Regions from separate parts of the Homo sapiens genome. Here region 2 is linked to region 1. The links come from fine-mapping of genetic effects on gene expression. Tissue or cell type: whole blood. Region 1 holds a variant in brackets; the other region holds the start of a gene. All regions are shown on one strand. Distances are between the middles of the regions.

What was found. PIP is the estimated chance that this variant, and not a neighbour inherited with it, causes the effect.
Region 2: it holds the start of PGAP3, and the variant in region 1 is fine-mapped to the expression of PGAP3 in whole blood (TOPMed, PIP 0.92).

Annotation. Positions count from the first base shown.
Region 1 is chr17:39,626,942-39,634,998 of GRCh38, forward strand. It overlaps PPP1R1B (protein phosphatase 1 regulatory inhibitor subunit 1B), which reads left to right and starts at 11. Exons shown (of 7, transcript NM_032192.4): 1 at 11-532; 2 at 2,229-2,289; 3 at 2,599-2,621; 4 at 3,031-3,106; 5 at 6,942-7,145. The coding sequence starts at 452. LOC124903998 (a long non-coding RNA gene) reads right to left here. Exons shown (of 2, transcript XR_007065749.1): 2 at 7,697-8,057. RefSeq lists enhancers at 4,421-5,340, 5,341-6,260. The variant A/G (reference allele first, on the strand shown) is at 3,857.
Region 2 is chr17:39,684,350-39,692,402 of GRCh38, forward strand. It overlaps PGAP3 (post-GPI attachment to proteins phospholipase 3), which reads right to left and starts at 3,708. Exons shown (of 8, transcript NM_033419.5): 1 at 3,485-3,708; 2 at 1,573-1,670; 3 at 248-400. The coding sequence starts at 3,665. It also overlaps a transcript of ERBB2 not described here. RefSeq lists enhancers at 3,727-3,836, 4,547-5,507 and a silencer at 4,787-5,081.

The sequences.
Region 1 (8,057 bases):
TGAGCCCGGCAGAGGCAGAGACACACGCGGAGAGGAGGAGAGGCTGAGGGAGGGAGGTGGAGAAGGACGGGAGAGGCAGAGAGAGGAGACACGCAGAGACACTCAGGAGGGGAGAGACACCGAGACGCAGAGACACTCAGGAGGGGAGAGACACCGAGACGCAGAGACACCCAGGCCGGGGAGCGCGAGGGAGCGAGGCACAGACCTGGCTCAGCGAGCGCGGGGGGCGAGCCCCGAGTCCCGAGAGCCTGGGGGCGCGCCCAGCCCGGGCGCCGACCCTCCTCCCGCTCCCGCGCCCTCCCCTCGGCGGGCACGGTATTTTTATCCGTGCGCGAACAGCCCTCCTCCTCCTCTCGCCGCACAGCCCGCCGCCTGCGCGGGGGAGCCCAGCACAGACCGCCGCCGGGACCCCGAGTCGCGCACCCCAGCCCCACCGCCCACCCCGCGCGCCATGGACCCCAAGGACCGCAAGAAGATCCAGTTCTCGGTGCCCGCGCCCCCTAGCCAGCTCGACCCCCGCCAGGTGGAGATGGTAAGGGGCCCGTGCCCCACCCCGGCAGCGTACCCGACACACCCCGCGGGGCTTCTTCGCCCTCCCAAGGCGCTGCCCCGGCCGGACTGGCCTGGGGGTGGGGGCGCAAGGAGAGCCGGGCTCTGCCTCGGTCAGGACGGGGCGCGGGGCCGCGTGTGAAGTTAGCTGGAGACTCGTGCAACTTTTCCCCGCGGCTTTGGTCCTGATCCCGGGGCAAGAGAGTTCCTGGCAGTGAGGCTGGGGGTGCGGGGGTGGGGGGACAGGCCGATTCCAGACCGCCCAGGAGTGGGGTGGGGGCGTCCTTTGGTCCCAGCACAGTCCCCAAAGGGTAGTCAGTCTCCTAGGCTACCACCGGGACCGCTCCGCCTGGCTCTGTCCCAGAGCTGGTCAGATGTGAGCAGCGGTGGACACTGACCTTGTCACCCAGGGCAGGAGTATGAGGCTGCCACCGGGTGAATCCACTACCCTGCCCCTCTCTAATCCCGCGTGTGTGCCTGGGCTGGGGTCTCCAGAACCTGGCTCTGGCCTCCTGCTGTCAGGCCCCAGAGCCCCAACCCCAAGGAGGGAGAGGTGGGGAGTCATCACAAAGCCAGACCTCTTCCCACAGACTACTGAGTCCTCCTGAGGGCCTTCTTGGGGGTTGAGGGGCTTCCAAAGGCTGGCGGGTGCTGTGACAGAGAGCTCCACTTCCCATCCCTAGTGGAGCAGGGGTCACTTGTTGCTGAGCTGAGATGCAGCTGGCTCCCCACTGAGCAGTGATGAGGGGGCCAAGTCATTATGGGGGGAGATAGAGGGCAGGGGGTACAGTCCTGGGCCTAAGCAGCTTTGGGTCATGAGGGTGTCATGGGGAGCTTGGCTGGGGAGGTGGCAGTTTCAGCTTAACTCACCTGGTTCTCTTTGTGCATTTCCCTGGAGCTCAACAGGGACCTAATTAACTGACAGTTGGTCTGATTGCCAAGCTGAGGGGCGGGGCGGGGAGGGGGGCGGTCAGTTGCTGCTTGGCTCACGTAGCAAGGAGGGCAACTTTTCATTTCTCACAAGGACTGGGTGAAGAGTTCTGCAGCCTTACAGAGACTGGAAAAGAAGCCCAAACCAAGGCCCCCAGAGAGGTCCCCCAGGCCCCTTTGGGTCCCTGAGCCTCAGCTGGAGGTGGGGGGTGCCTGCAGTGCGCTGGCTCAGTCTCCTTCTGAAAAGCTGGATCCAGCTTGTTTGAAGCCCTTGAGCTGATCTTAGGTGGGCAGGGCCACATGGGTGCCATGGCCCGTGGGGCATCTTCCCCAGAGGGCCCAGCCGTGGCAGCTGGAGCTGTAGCCAGCTTTGGCTTCCGAGGTCTGATGTTTTCAGAAACTGGAGAGAGGAAGGGCCTTGGTGGGAGAAGATAGGAAGGGAGATGTCTGTTCTGGAGTAGCCATGGAGTGGGACAGGCATGGGCTGGGAGTCAGTGACTGGGGTTTTTCTCGTCCTTTGGACTTGTTGTGCTGTGTGGCCTTAAGCACATTGCCAAATCTCTCTGAGCCCTGCTTTTTCACCTCTGTAAAATGAGGGGGTTAGGTGAGCTACAGAGTTCCTTTTGGCTCTGACAGACTTTGATTCAAAGGTTCCCTGGGGACTCCAAAGCACTGTTTGTTCCCTGCTGCCTGGGGGTGGGGGAGGGCTGCAGGTGTCCATCCAGTCACCCCTCCCTCCATCTCCTTAGATCCGGCGCAGGAGACCAACGCCTGCCATGCTGTTCCGGCTCTCAGAGCACTCCTCACCAGGTAGGCCCCTCCCTGCCCACTTAGCCCTGGCCCCACCCTAGCTCTGATGCCTTCCTAGGGGCCCTGCCAAAGTCCCATGAACAGGAGTCAAAGCTGGAGACTGGGGAGTGGATAAGGTCTGGGAACCCAACTCTATTGGCTTTATTTATTGACATGACACCTCCCAGCCGCAGGAGGGAGAGGGCACACTTTCCCTGTCCCCAGAGATTGAGACCCTGGGGAAAATAACTCGGATTCTTTCTCTCTCTCCCTCTTCTCTTTTCCTCCTCGCTTGGTTCTGGTTCGGTTGGCTTTGGTGGCCTTCCTCAGAGGAGGAAGCCTCCCCCCACCAGGTGAGTTTCCTGGGGCAGCTGGAAGGAGGGATGCCTGGGCCCCTTGGGGTGGGGTGGACGGGTGCCTGCAGTGACAACCAACCAGTATGGGGTGCCACCCAAGAGGACACATTAGCATATCAATGGGCAGTCCTCTGAGAGTGCCTCATGCCAGGGTGCCACCAGCAGATCCTCCTCTGCTCAGACTCAGGGTGGAACCTCCTGGACCTAGAGTCCTGCCCTGAACCAGGCCATGGCTTATGGGGGGCCCCCCCTAAAGCCACAGGGTGGGGAGGCTCAGCCTAGGTGCAGGACCCATTAGCAGTGGCTAAATCAGTCTGCTTGGGTGGCCATGGGTGGGATGGAATGGAGGGATGGTGAAGGCAAGGGCCTCTGCTGAGCCCCTTTAACCTGGCACTTCCCCTGGCAGAGAGCCTCAGGAGAGGGGCACCATCTCAAGTCGAAGAGACCCAACCCCTGTGCCTACACACCACCTTCGCTGAAAGGTACTATACCCCCACCGACCTTCCTGGCTGTCCGCCTGATCCCTGGAACTGGGCAGACGCTAGGGGAGCTTTTGTCAGTGGGGAGGGATTGTTTCGCCACACATAGCCCGCTGTCAGCGTGGCGCAACAACCCAACGTAAAGACCAATTTTTTCTCAGTCTGGCCTTGCAAAACACAGGAGTCCCGAGGCTGCAATGGGCAGCTATGGGCCTTAACATCGGGTTGTGGGCTTGAAAGAAAAGAGATGGCTGGCCTAAGACAACCAGCAGGCATCCGCGTGGAAGGGACTCCACCTGCAGCTCCTCTTCACCAGCCTGTGGTGGACCACCTCCCACCCCTGCTCATCCAGGGCGCCTTCTCCTGTGGGCTTCACCCCTGGCCTCCCCTCCCATTTGCATCCCATTTGCACAGATCTGCACACTGGTCTCCTCTTTCCTGCTTCCCTTTCTCCATGGAAAAGCAAGCCATTCCTTTTGCACACTTACTCAACACCTAGTATATGCCAGGCCAAGTTGGTGGGCATTGGGCAGAATAAGATGAGTCAGATTTGGTCCCTGCCCCCTTGGGGCTCTTTGCCTCAAAGGGTCAGGGAGGGGCCAAGTAAGGTGGCTCACACCTGAAATCCCAGCACTTTGGGAGGCCAAGGCGGGAGGACTGCTTGAGCCTAGGAGTTCGAGACCAGCTTGGGCAATACAGTGAGACCCCCATCTCTATGAAAAATTTACAAAGTGAGCTAAGCGGGCCGGGCGC[A/G]GTGACTCACGCCTGTAATCCCAGCACTTTGGGAGGCCGAGGCGGGCAGATCACCTGAGGTCAGGAGTTTGAGACCAGCCTGACCAACATGGAGAAATCCTGTCTCTATTAAAAATACAAAATTAGCCAGGCGTGGTAGCGCATGCCTGTCATCTCAGCTACTCAGGAGGCTGAGGCAGGAGAATCACTTGAACCCGGGAGGCAGAGGTTGTGGTGAGCTGAGATCGCACCATTGCACTCCAGTCTGGGCAAAAAGAGCAAAACTCTGTCTCAAGAAAAAAAAAAAAGTGAGCTAAGCATAGAGGTGCACACCTATAGTCCCAGATACTTGGGAGGCTAAGGCACAAGGATTGCTTGAGCCCAGAAGTTTGAGGCTGCAGTGAGCTATGATCGCACCACTGTGCTCCAGTCTGGGCTACAGAGTGAGAGCCTGTCTCGGGAAAAAATAAAAAAAGAAAAGGGTCAAGGAAGGTACACAAAGATGTTTAAGCTTGGATTTGAAGGATCATAGGAATTTAACAGGCAGGCAAGGGCATCCCAGGTCCAAGAAGAGGGAAGAAGGTGTGCAAAGAGAAAGAGATGCGAGTCAGAGGGGGACTTCTGGGCCAACCTGGAGGAGGCTTCGTTTCTAGTCAGGGAGCTGGGGAGATATACCTGAAGGACATAGGAGGGCCTCTTCCTGACTAAGCCCTGTTGCCTACCAACCCCCCACCTCAACTCCTGCCTGGGGCTCTTCCTGCCCGGCCAGCCCCCTCCGCTCCTGCGGAGGTTGGGAGGGAGAGCTACCGGAAGAGTATGCTGGGAAGTGGTTCGGGGGAGGGTTTAATAAGTTCCCAGCACCAGCCAAGGTCAACAGGTATACCTGTCAGCCCACTTGCCAGGGTTGGGAACAGAGAGGAGAGGCTGGGAAGGGAGGAGAGAAGGGAAGGGGTTATTTTGCTTTCCCCAGGACAGGAAAATGAAGGGTCAGAGCTGCAGCAAGTGGGCAGTGTGGCTCAGCACCTGGAAGGACCTCCCCACCTAGAGGGGTGTGTGGAAGGGCCCCAAAGCAGGCATGAGGGACAGAGTGTCATCTTCTCAGGAGAGAATTTAAGAAATCCCTCTCCCTCCCACCTTGGGCTGGGTAGGGAGAGGCTGGGTGGATGTGAGGGGAAGACCTGGCTCTTGACTGCAAGCATGGGCGAACAGGCCAGGATGAAGATGTTAGGGCCAGGGTGCTACCATGCACCGTGCAGTGGTCAAAATTGTGCACCCCCTCAACTGCCCCTTTAGGCCACATCTTAGGAGAGTCCAGGTGAGTAGAGGCAGGGAAGAGGAAAGGGATCAGGAGAGGGGTGGCCAGTCTGGGGCAAGGCTGGGGACCTTCCAACTGAAGAAGGAAGACTTGTGGTGGGGGGAGTTTGGGGCCCCACAGAGTGGGGCAGAGAAGGAGACAGCCTGGAAGGAGTGATGGGGAGACCCCAGAGAGCCCAGGAGGCATGAGGGAGGTGGGGGAAGCGAGGGAGGCTCACGGGGCACCAGCGCAAGCACCGCACACACCTTCTGTTGTCACTGTGGCTCACGAAGTGAACTCTCCTCCCCCGCTGGGGGAGAAGGAAGCTGCCTGGGCTGCCACCTGCTCTCCTGCCTTACCTCCCCCCACAGCCCTCATGGATCCTTCTCTACCAGGAGGGCACTGTTTTGTAGGCTTCAGTCCTTTTGTGGGCAAGGGAAGGTGCCCGGCAGGGTTGGGGCTTGTCAGGGAAGAATCGAGGGCCCTAGAGAGAGGGGCACAGCACTAAGTCTTAGCTTGAGGGGTTGTGCTCCAAGGCTGGAGCTCTCACACTTGGCTCAAGATGAAGCTCTGCCGCGTCCCCAAGGTCAGGGTAGGGTGATTTATTGTGCTTTTATTGCCTGGATAGCTTGCCCAGAGCCAGCAGGAGGTACTGGGCTGGGAGCTGGGGGCTGGGTGGGGCAGCGGGCACATACAAAGCACCCTCTGTGCCTGTCCCCGAGTTGGCAGGAGCATAGCACCCTGCTCACTGTGCCGGAGGTTTCCAGCCTGGCCCTACCCCTCTGGGCCTTCTGAGGGGAGGGGCCACTGGCAGACCAAGAAGGAACTGCAGCAACTCCCCATTCCCCACCCCCAGCCCCTCCTCAGCATCTTGTCTGTGGCCTGTGAACTTTGTGTCGCATATGTTCTAAGATCCTGCCAGCTCCTGCAGCCTCTCCTCAGTGGCCCCTCAACCTCTGCCATCCCCCAGAACCCCTGGCCTTGGCCCCTTTCTCTAACCCCTTGCTCCTTTCCATCTTTTGGAAACTTGTCTCCAGCTGCCCACACTGTTCCCTTCCCAGCCCTATCTGAGCAGGTCTTTGGAGGCTGGGGGGGTTGCTTTCTAGGTCACCGCAGAGGGAGCTGGGAACCTGGGGATGTGGGTCAAGATTGTGGGGGCCGCATCTGAGCATGCCGCATCCCCCGGCACAGACTGCACTGGCTGCAGACTATTATGTCCTCAGCCTCGGAATTGTTCTGTCCCTTGGAGCCCGGGGCAGGAGTATGTGGATTGGCATCTATGACTGGGCAGTGCCAGGGAGTGGGGACTATGCATCGCATGGGAGGTAGGATCAGGGTAAGCAGTGAGCCCTCAGCAGGCTGGGCACCCCCAAGAAATGGAAAGTGGCAAATCCCCAGGCCCTGGTTCCTACGCCCTGTGCCTTCTGCCTGGGCTTGAAGCTGGGAGACACTGTCTCCCGTACTGGGTACTTGGAAAATCAAGCTCTCCAGCCAGGGAATGTTAAGCTGCTGCTGTGCCCGCCTGGTCTTGCCCAGCCTAGTGCCCTATGGTGTGGGGGAGCTGCCTGGGGGCTAGCATCTTAGGACAGCTTAAGAGCCAAACATGATCAAATCTACCCCTGGCTGCCTCTGCCCTGGTCTGACACCCATCAGGCTGACCTGTCAACTTTGGCCTTTGAACTTGGGCCCCTGAGGGGGTATTCTCTGCCCCAGGCCTACGGGAAGGAGGCTGGGGGCTAGGCCACAGGCTATCTCCAGATCCATGGGCTGTGTCTAGCTGACCCTTGCTTTCCTCGGTCTCCTCTGTGCCAGCTGTGCAGCGCATTGCTGAGTCTCACCTGCAGTCTATCAGCAATTTGAATGAGAACCAGGCCTCAGAGGAGGAGGATGAGCTGGGGGAGCTTCGGGAGCTGGGTTATCCAAGAGAGGAAGATGAGGAGGAAGAGGAGGATGATGAAGAAGAGGAAGAAGAAGAGGACAGCCAGGCTGAAGTCCTGAAGGTCATCAGGCAGTCTGGTAAGCTGAGGGGCCTGTGACATGTGGATTAGCTGTGGGTCCTCCTTGAGTATACGAGGACGTCCCCTTCTAGTTCAGTGTCTCATACACGCAAACTGTAGTGACACCACAGGGGCCTCCCTGTCTTCTCGCTCCATGGGGTGCCCCGAACTCAGCCCTACCTGAGACATGGGTTTCCTCCATCCTTGGCTCAGTCCCTCTCCCAATCAGGTTTTCCCTAATAATTCCTCTCTTCCCTGAGAATTAAGGCCAAGGCCGTTTGGGGTTTGAGGCTAGAGCCAAAAGAGGACTTCCCACCTATGGCAGTAAGGGGGCGTGAGGACATTCAGGGATGGAGGACCAGGAGAGTCCAACACCCCTGTCACCTGCATTTCACCTACATTTTTGAACCTAGGATGTGGTCTCTGCTGGGGTGCAGAGGGCTGCCTCATTTACTTGCCCTCTCCAGGACTGTTGTCTGTTTCTCCTCTTTTTCCTTCCTAGGATGGAGTGGGAGGGTGCCCTCTAGTGTTTAGATGTAGAATTTAAAATTCAAGAACCAGCCCGGCCCATTAACCTTTTTAGTCTCATTATTTATGGGAATACTGAAGAGTCAACCACCCCTACTAGAAGCTGTCAGCTCTTCCACACAAACAAAAGGCCTTGGGCCTCCTGCCTGCATATCTGGCAGTGAAGAGATTGGCCATGGGGGCAAAAGCTGTTGCTGGGCTTCAGTCCCTTTGTGGGCAAGAGACAGCTGGAAGACCTGAATCAGTCCTCACTGAGACCCCTCCAAAACAGTGGAAGAGGGGTGAGAGGAGACTGTTCCCTCAGGAAAAGCAGCAGGTGGCTGGGTGCGGTGGCTCATGCCTGTAATTCCAGCACTTTGGGATGCCAAGGCTAGCGGATCACTTGAGGTCTGGAGTTCAAGAC
Region 2 (8,053 bases), 57 kb after region 1:
AGAAAAATGCCCTTCTTTCCTCTCTCCTTCCCAAACAGCCTGACCTAGGGCTCTGCTGGAAAGGTAAGGCCCGATTCAGCACCCTCCCTGTTTTCTCCCCAGGCTTTACCACCCTGCAGCTGCAACTTTAGCCCTGGGAAACAGAGGGGAAGCTGGTAAGTAGAAGCCCTGTTGGGTGTTAATAGGGATGTAGAGCTCCACCTTCCTAGATAAGAGGAGACAGCAGGAGTCCTGCTAGGTTACCTACCCAGGCGAAGGCCACACAGGTGTGGTACATGGGGGAGGAGGCTGGCACGAAGGTGCGGTAGCGGCAGAGCATCACCAGGCTGGCCAGGCCATTGAGAAACGAGGCCACGGCCGATGCCGGCTCTTGAAAGAACAGGAACCGGGAGAAGGGCCACTGAAAAAGGAGCAGATGAAGGAGGTTTGAAGGGCAGGCAACCCTCAACTGGCCCAGTCCACCTATTCTTGACATGCTGAAGCAACAGGTCCTCAGCTGAGTCCTCAGCTCTGGAGTTTGGCCAAAGCCTCAGGTTCAGTACCTCTTCAGACTAATGAGCCACCCTCCAGTGCCTAGTTAAGAGTTATACCCCCATCCTGGCCAGCAGGCACAGCACTGTAAGCCCTGATCTCTGGGAAGACCAGATGGGTCAGGGTAGATGACTCAGTATGGCCTGGTGGAAACAGCACAGAGTTGCCATCCAGAAGACACAGGTCCCAACCCCTCCTCTACCACTGACCACGGTCCTTTGAGCCTCAGCTTACTCTGTGAAAAACTGGGGTGAATACTTCCTGCCAACCTCAACAGGCCAGAATGAGATAATACTGGATTGAAACGTACCAGCAGGCCAGGCGCGGTGGCTCACGCCTGTAATCCCAGCACTTTGGGAAGCTGAGGCGAGAGGGTCACAAGGTCAGGAGATTGAGACCATCCTGGCTAACATGGTGAAACCCCATCTCTACTTAAAAAAAAAAAAAAAAAAATACAAAAAATTAGCTGGGTGTGGTGGCACACACCTGTAGTCCCAGCTACTTGGGAGGCTCAGGCATGAGAATTGCTTGAACCTGGGAGGTAGAGGTTGCAGTGAGCCAAGATCATGCCACTGCACTCCAGCCTGGGCGACAGAGGGAGACTCCATCTCAAAAAAAAAAACAAAAAACAAAAAACAAAAGAAAGAAAGGTACCAGCAAACTGTGCCTCGCTAGACAAGCTGAAGCATATTACTGTGAATCCAGACCCCTACTGGAGAAGCAACAGGAAACAAGCCACAGTAGGTAAGGGAATTTGTCCCTGCAGTAAGGTGGGCATCTCAACCACTCTAAGAGGCCCAGCACCACTCTCTGGGGAGACTCCAAAGCCTTCCAGATATTGCTACTCCAAATCCAGAGGCAGGACACATGGGTCCTATCCAATTCTATGGAAACCAGCAGATTTTGGGGAGAACAGGTAGCTGCCCCAAACACACACGCATTACCCCATGCCTCAGACTGCTTGGACAGTGTGGTCCAACCAGGGGGTATATTACTCCTACCACGCTACTACCATATGCCTACCCTGACCCTCCAACTCACCTTGCCATGGAACTGAGGCACTTTGTGACCTTCCTGGAGGTAGAGCCCAACGGTGACCCACATACACTCATACTTACAGTCGTCCCGACAGGTCCAGCCTGAAACAGACAAATGTGGCCTGGTGAACTCCCCAGCACAGAGAGGAAAGAGAGAGCATGAATGGGGTCCAAGCGCAAATGTAGGCCAAGAGGGCCTGTAAGTTGGAGAGAACCAGGAGAAATCTCAAAATTCTAGCTTCCCCTTTGAATGAATGAGAGATGATGAGATGTACACATAGGGGAAGGTGTATGTACGTATGTATGCATATTTTAGTGAGCAATTAGAGATATTCGTCTTTTTTTTGTTTGTTTTTTTGAGACAGTTTTGTTTTTGTTGCCCAGGCTGGAGTGCAATGGTGCGATCTCGGTTCACTGCAACCTCCGCCTCCTGGGTTCAAGCGATTCTCCTGCCTCAGGCTCCCGAGTAGCTGGGATTACAGGCATGCACCACCACACCCAACTAATTTTGTATTTTTAGTAGAGATGGGGTTTCTCCATGTTGGTCAGGGTGGTCTTGAACTCCCAACCTCAGGTTATCTGCCTGCCTCTGCCACCTAAAGTGCGGGGATTGCAGGCACGAGCCACCGCACCCGGCATTTTTTTTTTTTTTTTTTTTTTGAGACAGGGTCTCGCTCTTTCATCCAGGCTGGAGTGCAGTGGGGAGAGCATGGCTCACCACAGCCTTGACCTCCTGGGCTCAAACGATCCTCCCACCTCAGCCTCCCAAGTAGCGAGACCACAATGTCTGGCTAATTCTTTTATTTTTTGTAGAGAAGGCATCTTGTCATGTTGCCTAGGCTAGTCTTGAACTCCAGGGCTCAGATGATCTTTCTACCTTGGCAGACATTTCCTCTCCTTTTGCTCAAGTCCATCAAGATGTTGGCATCTGATGAACTCATCTATGGAAACCTGGGTTTATATTTGTCCTTCCTGAATATAGGATTTGCTCTTACTCTCCTGGAAGGAGTTCTTGCTATCTTACTCCCTTCCTATGAAAATGAAGCCCAAATTCTTCAACCTGACTTTTGAGGCTCCAAATTGCCTTTCCAACCGTATTGGTCACTACTCCTGTTCATGTACCCTGCTCCCTGAGTAAATAAAGCTCCTGGATGTGCCCACATCTGCCCAGGGCATCCATTCTCTCTGTTCCCTCTGTCTGGAATGCAAAGTGGTATAATAGTAAAGAGGACAAGCTTGTGGTCAAACAGGCCAGAACTGGAAACTCCACTTTACTACATACTGGCTGTGTGACCTTGGGCAGGGCATTTAATCTCTCTAATCCCCATCTGTAAAACTGGGATTAGAGAAACTATCTCAAAGGGTGTGATAAAAATTACTTGACATATTGTGACACCTGTCACACAGTGAGTGCTCAATACGTTGGTTCTTTGCCCACTATGGTCCAAATCGAATGTACCAGTCCAAAGTCCCTCCTTCAAACAAAACGTTCCAAGATGATCCCTGCCCCCACGTCTTCAAAGCCGGAACTGACACCTTCCTATCCCAAATGCTTCCTAATCAAAGAGTCTTTCAGGGGCTCAAATCATTCTCTGCCTTGCACTTGAAAAGGCTCATGTCCCCGTGGGGACTGTGAGTCCCAATGGGCGGGACCCTGGTCTGATTTCTGTGCCATTCCTAGACATTGTGGCCCGAATGTATTTAATAAATACCCTTTTGACTGAACAAATAAGTAAATGAAAGCTTCTGGGAAAGTAAGAGAGGCTGGTAAGGCTCTCATCACCTTAGGGGCTTCACTCACATTCATAAGAGACCTCGTGGGGAAACTAAGGTTCAGGGATTGCAGAGGCGTATTGGGGGCGCAGGGGGCGGGAGCAAGACAAATGGGCGGGGCTTACCGTGGGGGTGGGGCTTACCTGCTAGACTCATGTAGATTGGCTGGCGGGAGCGGAAGTGATTCAGAGCGCCCCCAGAGCAGTTCTGCTCTTCGCACTGCAGTACGCAGTCGCGGTACACCGGCTCACGGTCGCCCTGGGAGCCGCTCGCCAGCGCCGCTGCCCCAGCTAGCAGGACCAACCGCGCCGCCAGGCCGGCCATCCTTTCTCCCTGGCTCGCCGCCGGGGGAGGAGCTTAGGAGTATGAAGCTTCCACTTCCGGAGTAACCGGAAGTTCCTGTGTTCTTTATTCTACTCTCCGCTGAAGTCCACACAGTTTAAATTAAAGTTCCCGGATTTTTGTGGGCGCCTGCCCCGCCCCTCGTCCCCCTGCTGTGTCCATATATCGAGGCGATAGGGTTAAGGGAAGGCGGACGCCTGATGGGTTAATGAGCAAACTGAAGTGTTTTCCATGATCTTTTTTGAGGTAGGGCTGTTTACTGTCACCACCCCTGTCGGATTTTACTTCCTAAACGTACCTGTAACTATCCACTTCTCTCCATCTCTTCTGGCACCACCCTGGTTAAAGACACCATCATGTGTCGCCAAGACAGCCGCAGTAGCTTCTTAATGGCTCTCCCTGCCTCTACTTTTGCCTCTTCCAACCTGCGCTCCATTTTGAAAAATTAAAATTTGCCCATATCACTTTTTTTTTCTTAAAATTATTTACTGGCTCCCAATTACCTTGGGTAAAATACAGTCTCCACAAACCCTGCCTGATTTGGCCCCTGTCCACTGGTCTCCCTCACTCCCTTGCTCCAGACCCGCTTCAGAGGGCTATGTCCCTCAAGCTTCCTGACTGCCTGGCCTGGTCTGAATCACTCACTCTTCTTTTTTCTTCTAGTCGCAATTGAAGTACCACCTCCCGAGGGTGATTGCTTCCCCATGCGGGGTAGAACCTTTGCTGTCCTGTTCACCACTCTACCTCCAGCACAGAATTTGGCTTATGGTAGGCGCTAACTGCGTTTGTTTGTTCTTCTGTTTAATGAATGAACAGCATACATCAACATAAGAACTTGACAAATCCAGGGCTGTAAAATCATCAGTATGGTTCTGCACTGAGATCGGAGAGAAGTAATATTTCTAGGAAAATTAGGAACCCTGGGAACAGGACGCTTGCTTTAGTATCCTCTCCCTGCTCACCTCCCCTGCACTCCCATCAGCACCGACCCACACCCAATCTCATAGAAGCCTTGTAGCTAAGGATCACCCTTTCTCCTCCCCCACTCTCCTCACCCCTTGTCAACTTTTCTTTTTCGTCCTGGGGGTTGGAATGAGTAAGAAGTAGCCTGGGATTCCATTCACTCACTTAACAAACATTTCTGAGTCCTTAGCTCTAGCACCTTGCTAAGCAAGGCAAAATCTCCAGGAGGCACCATTCACATTGCATTTTCTGTGAATGGTGCTCTGGGGAGCAGCATTCACATTGCCTTTTCTGTGAATGGCAAATTCTTCCAGTTAAATATAACATGAATAGTGTCCCCTGGAGTTGACCACCCAACTGATACTGACTGAGAAGCTGAAATGAACAAAACAACCCCTTAGCCCTCCAGGAGCTGACCGGAAATCCAGTGCTAATACTACTTTGCATCTTACAGATTAGTTCTTTTACAATACTGTTTTTTTTTCTTTTTTCATTTCATTTTGTCCTTTCTGTGACTCTGGGATGAGTCTTTTTATGAGGATCCTCATATAAAGATGGACATTTAGGATTAAAGAGGATGAAATCCTGACAAAATAGGGAGTCTCCCCTTTAGAAAATTCCTAAGTAAGGCTGGGGGTGGTGGCTCACGCCTGTAATCCCAGCACTTTGGGAGGCCGAGGCGGACGGATCACCTGAGGTTAGGAGTTTGAGACCAGCCTGACCAACATGGAGAAACCCCATCTCTACTAAAAATACAAAATTAGTTGGGTGTGGTGGTGCATGCCTGTAATCCCAGCTACTCAGGAGGCTGAGGCAGGAGAATCGCTTGAACCCAGGGAGGCAGAGGTTGTGGTGAGCCAAGATTGCGCCATCGCACTCCAGCCTGGGCAACAAGAGCGAAACTCAAAAAAAAAAAAAAAAAGAAAAAGAAAATTCCAATTTTGAAGGCCTCATCCTATATTATGTCAAACATACTGAAATGCAGTAACGCCCCACATTAAATAAGATTTATAAATAACTATACATATATATAATTCAATCTAATTGCTGTTAATAGTTGACATATTGCTACATTTATATACATTTAGTTAAAAAAAATTTTTTTTCCCAGACAGCCTCTCACTCTTTCACCTAGACTGAAGTGCAGTGGCATGATCACGACTCACTGCAACCTCAACCTCCCAGACTCAAGTGATCCTTCCATCTCAGCCTCCTGAGTAGCTGGGACTGCAGCATGCGCCACTATGCCCTGCTAATTTTTTTAATTTTTTGTAGAGACACGGTCTTGCTATGTTGCCTAGACTGGTCTCCAATTCCTGGGCTCGAGTGATCCTCCCGCCTCAACCTCCCAAAGTGCTGGGATTACGGGCGTGAGCCATGCCACACGGCCATAAAATATTAATTTTCGCAGCTTTCTTATATTTTAGAACTAACAATGGAAATTTGTTCGGGTCTAAAGTATTTCAGAGGTCCTTGAAAACCCATGCCTACATACCTGATGGAAAAAGCAATCCTAGGTTAATGGTGGAAGTGGGAGTAGAGACTTCTGTTCTGTTGACTTCTTGGAAGATGGGGTACTGTCTCTCTGGGACAGCTCTTGAGAATTTCCCTGCCAGCACAGCCCCAGATAACAATCTCTAGATGGCGATTACCTGGCCTCTCTTCCCAACTTTCTAGCCTGGAGCCCCTAGTTCTCCCCTGAGCCTCCTTAGCTTGTCCTTCTTCCTAACTTGTATTTGGCTTCAGATGTGATCCACAGTCTGAAAAGTCACTAATTCATTCCTTCAACTCAGGCTTATTGAGTCCTCCTGTGTATCAGCCATTGTACTCATGGGGGAAAAAAAAGACAAAGCATATGTTAATAGTAGAGTGTGCTGGACAGGCACAGTGGCTCATGCCTGTAATCCCAGCACTTTGGGAGGGCGAGGCAGGTGGATCATCTGAGGTCAGGAGTTCGAGACCAGCCTGACCTAACATGGAGAAACTCCTGAGATCGTGCCATTGCACTCCAGCCTGGGCAACAAGAGCAAAACTCCGTTTCAAAAAAAAAAAAAAAAGTATAGTGTGCTAAAGGCTCAACGGCAAGCTGACCATGTTCTTAGATCAAAATTGGTAGAGAGTCTACAATGTGGGTTCCTTATTCATCAAATGTTTATTAAGTTTACCATGTGCAAGTCTCTGGGAACAGAGTGATGAACAAGGCACTGTACTTTTCATGGTCAGAGGAGGGAAACAGGCCATAAACAAGTGTCAAACAAAAGACTGAAGCCAGGTGCGGTGGCTCACATCTGTAATCCCAGCACTGTGGGAGGCCAAGGCAGGCGGATCATGAGATCAGGAGATCGAGACCATCCTAGCCAACATGGTGAAACCCCATCTCTACTAAAAATACAAAAAAATTAGCTGGGCATGGTGGCACGTGCCTGTAATCCCAGCTACTCCGGAAGCTGAGGCAGGAGAATTGCTTGAACCAGGGAGTTGGAGGTTGCAGTGAGCCTGGATTATGCCACTGCACTCCAGCCTGGTGACAGAGCGAGACTCCATCTACATTAAAAAAAAAAATATATATATATATATATACACACACACACACACACACACACACATACCCTCTAACCCAGGAATTTCACTCCTAGGTATACCTACATAAGCTCCAGTATACCTAAACAAGTGCAAATTTGTTTAAGTACAGTTATTTGTGGTAGCATTAGTCATTGTTTTCAATAGCAAGAAGAAAAAGGAAACAACTAAATGTCCATCAATAGGGAATGAATTATATTAATGGAGGGAGAGCCATACAATGGAAGGCTGAACAGAAATTAATAGGAATGGGGCAGATTTGTAATGTACTAGCATGGTAAAACCTTCATGATAGATATAGATATAGATATAGATATAGATATAGATATATATACATATACATATACATATACATATACATATATATATATATATATATATATCTCTTGTGTCTCAGCCTCCCGAGTAGCTGGGATTACAGGTGTGTGCCACCACATCCGGCTAATTTTTGTATTTTTTAGTAGAGACAGGGCTTCACCATGTTGGTAAGGCTGTCTTGAACTCCCGACCTCAGGTGATCCACCTGTCTCAGCCTCCCAAAGTGCTGGGATTATAGGCATGAGCCATCACACCTGGCCAAATATTTTTGATAAGTATCAAGTGCACAGTGCAGAACAAAATATGTGTGTGTGTATGCATGTGTATGTACACCTATACACTTATATACAGTACCCCATGTGAAGAAAAATAAGGGTACGTGTTATGCGCGTAGTATTATGGTTGTTATTTTTGAGAATATATCTAGAAAGATAAAAAAGAAAGTGGAAATAGTTCTTGCCTCTGGTGGGAAGTGGGACTATGTGCCTGATCAATAGGGAAGTAAGGAA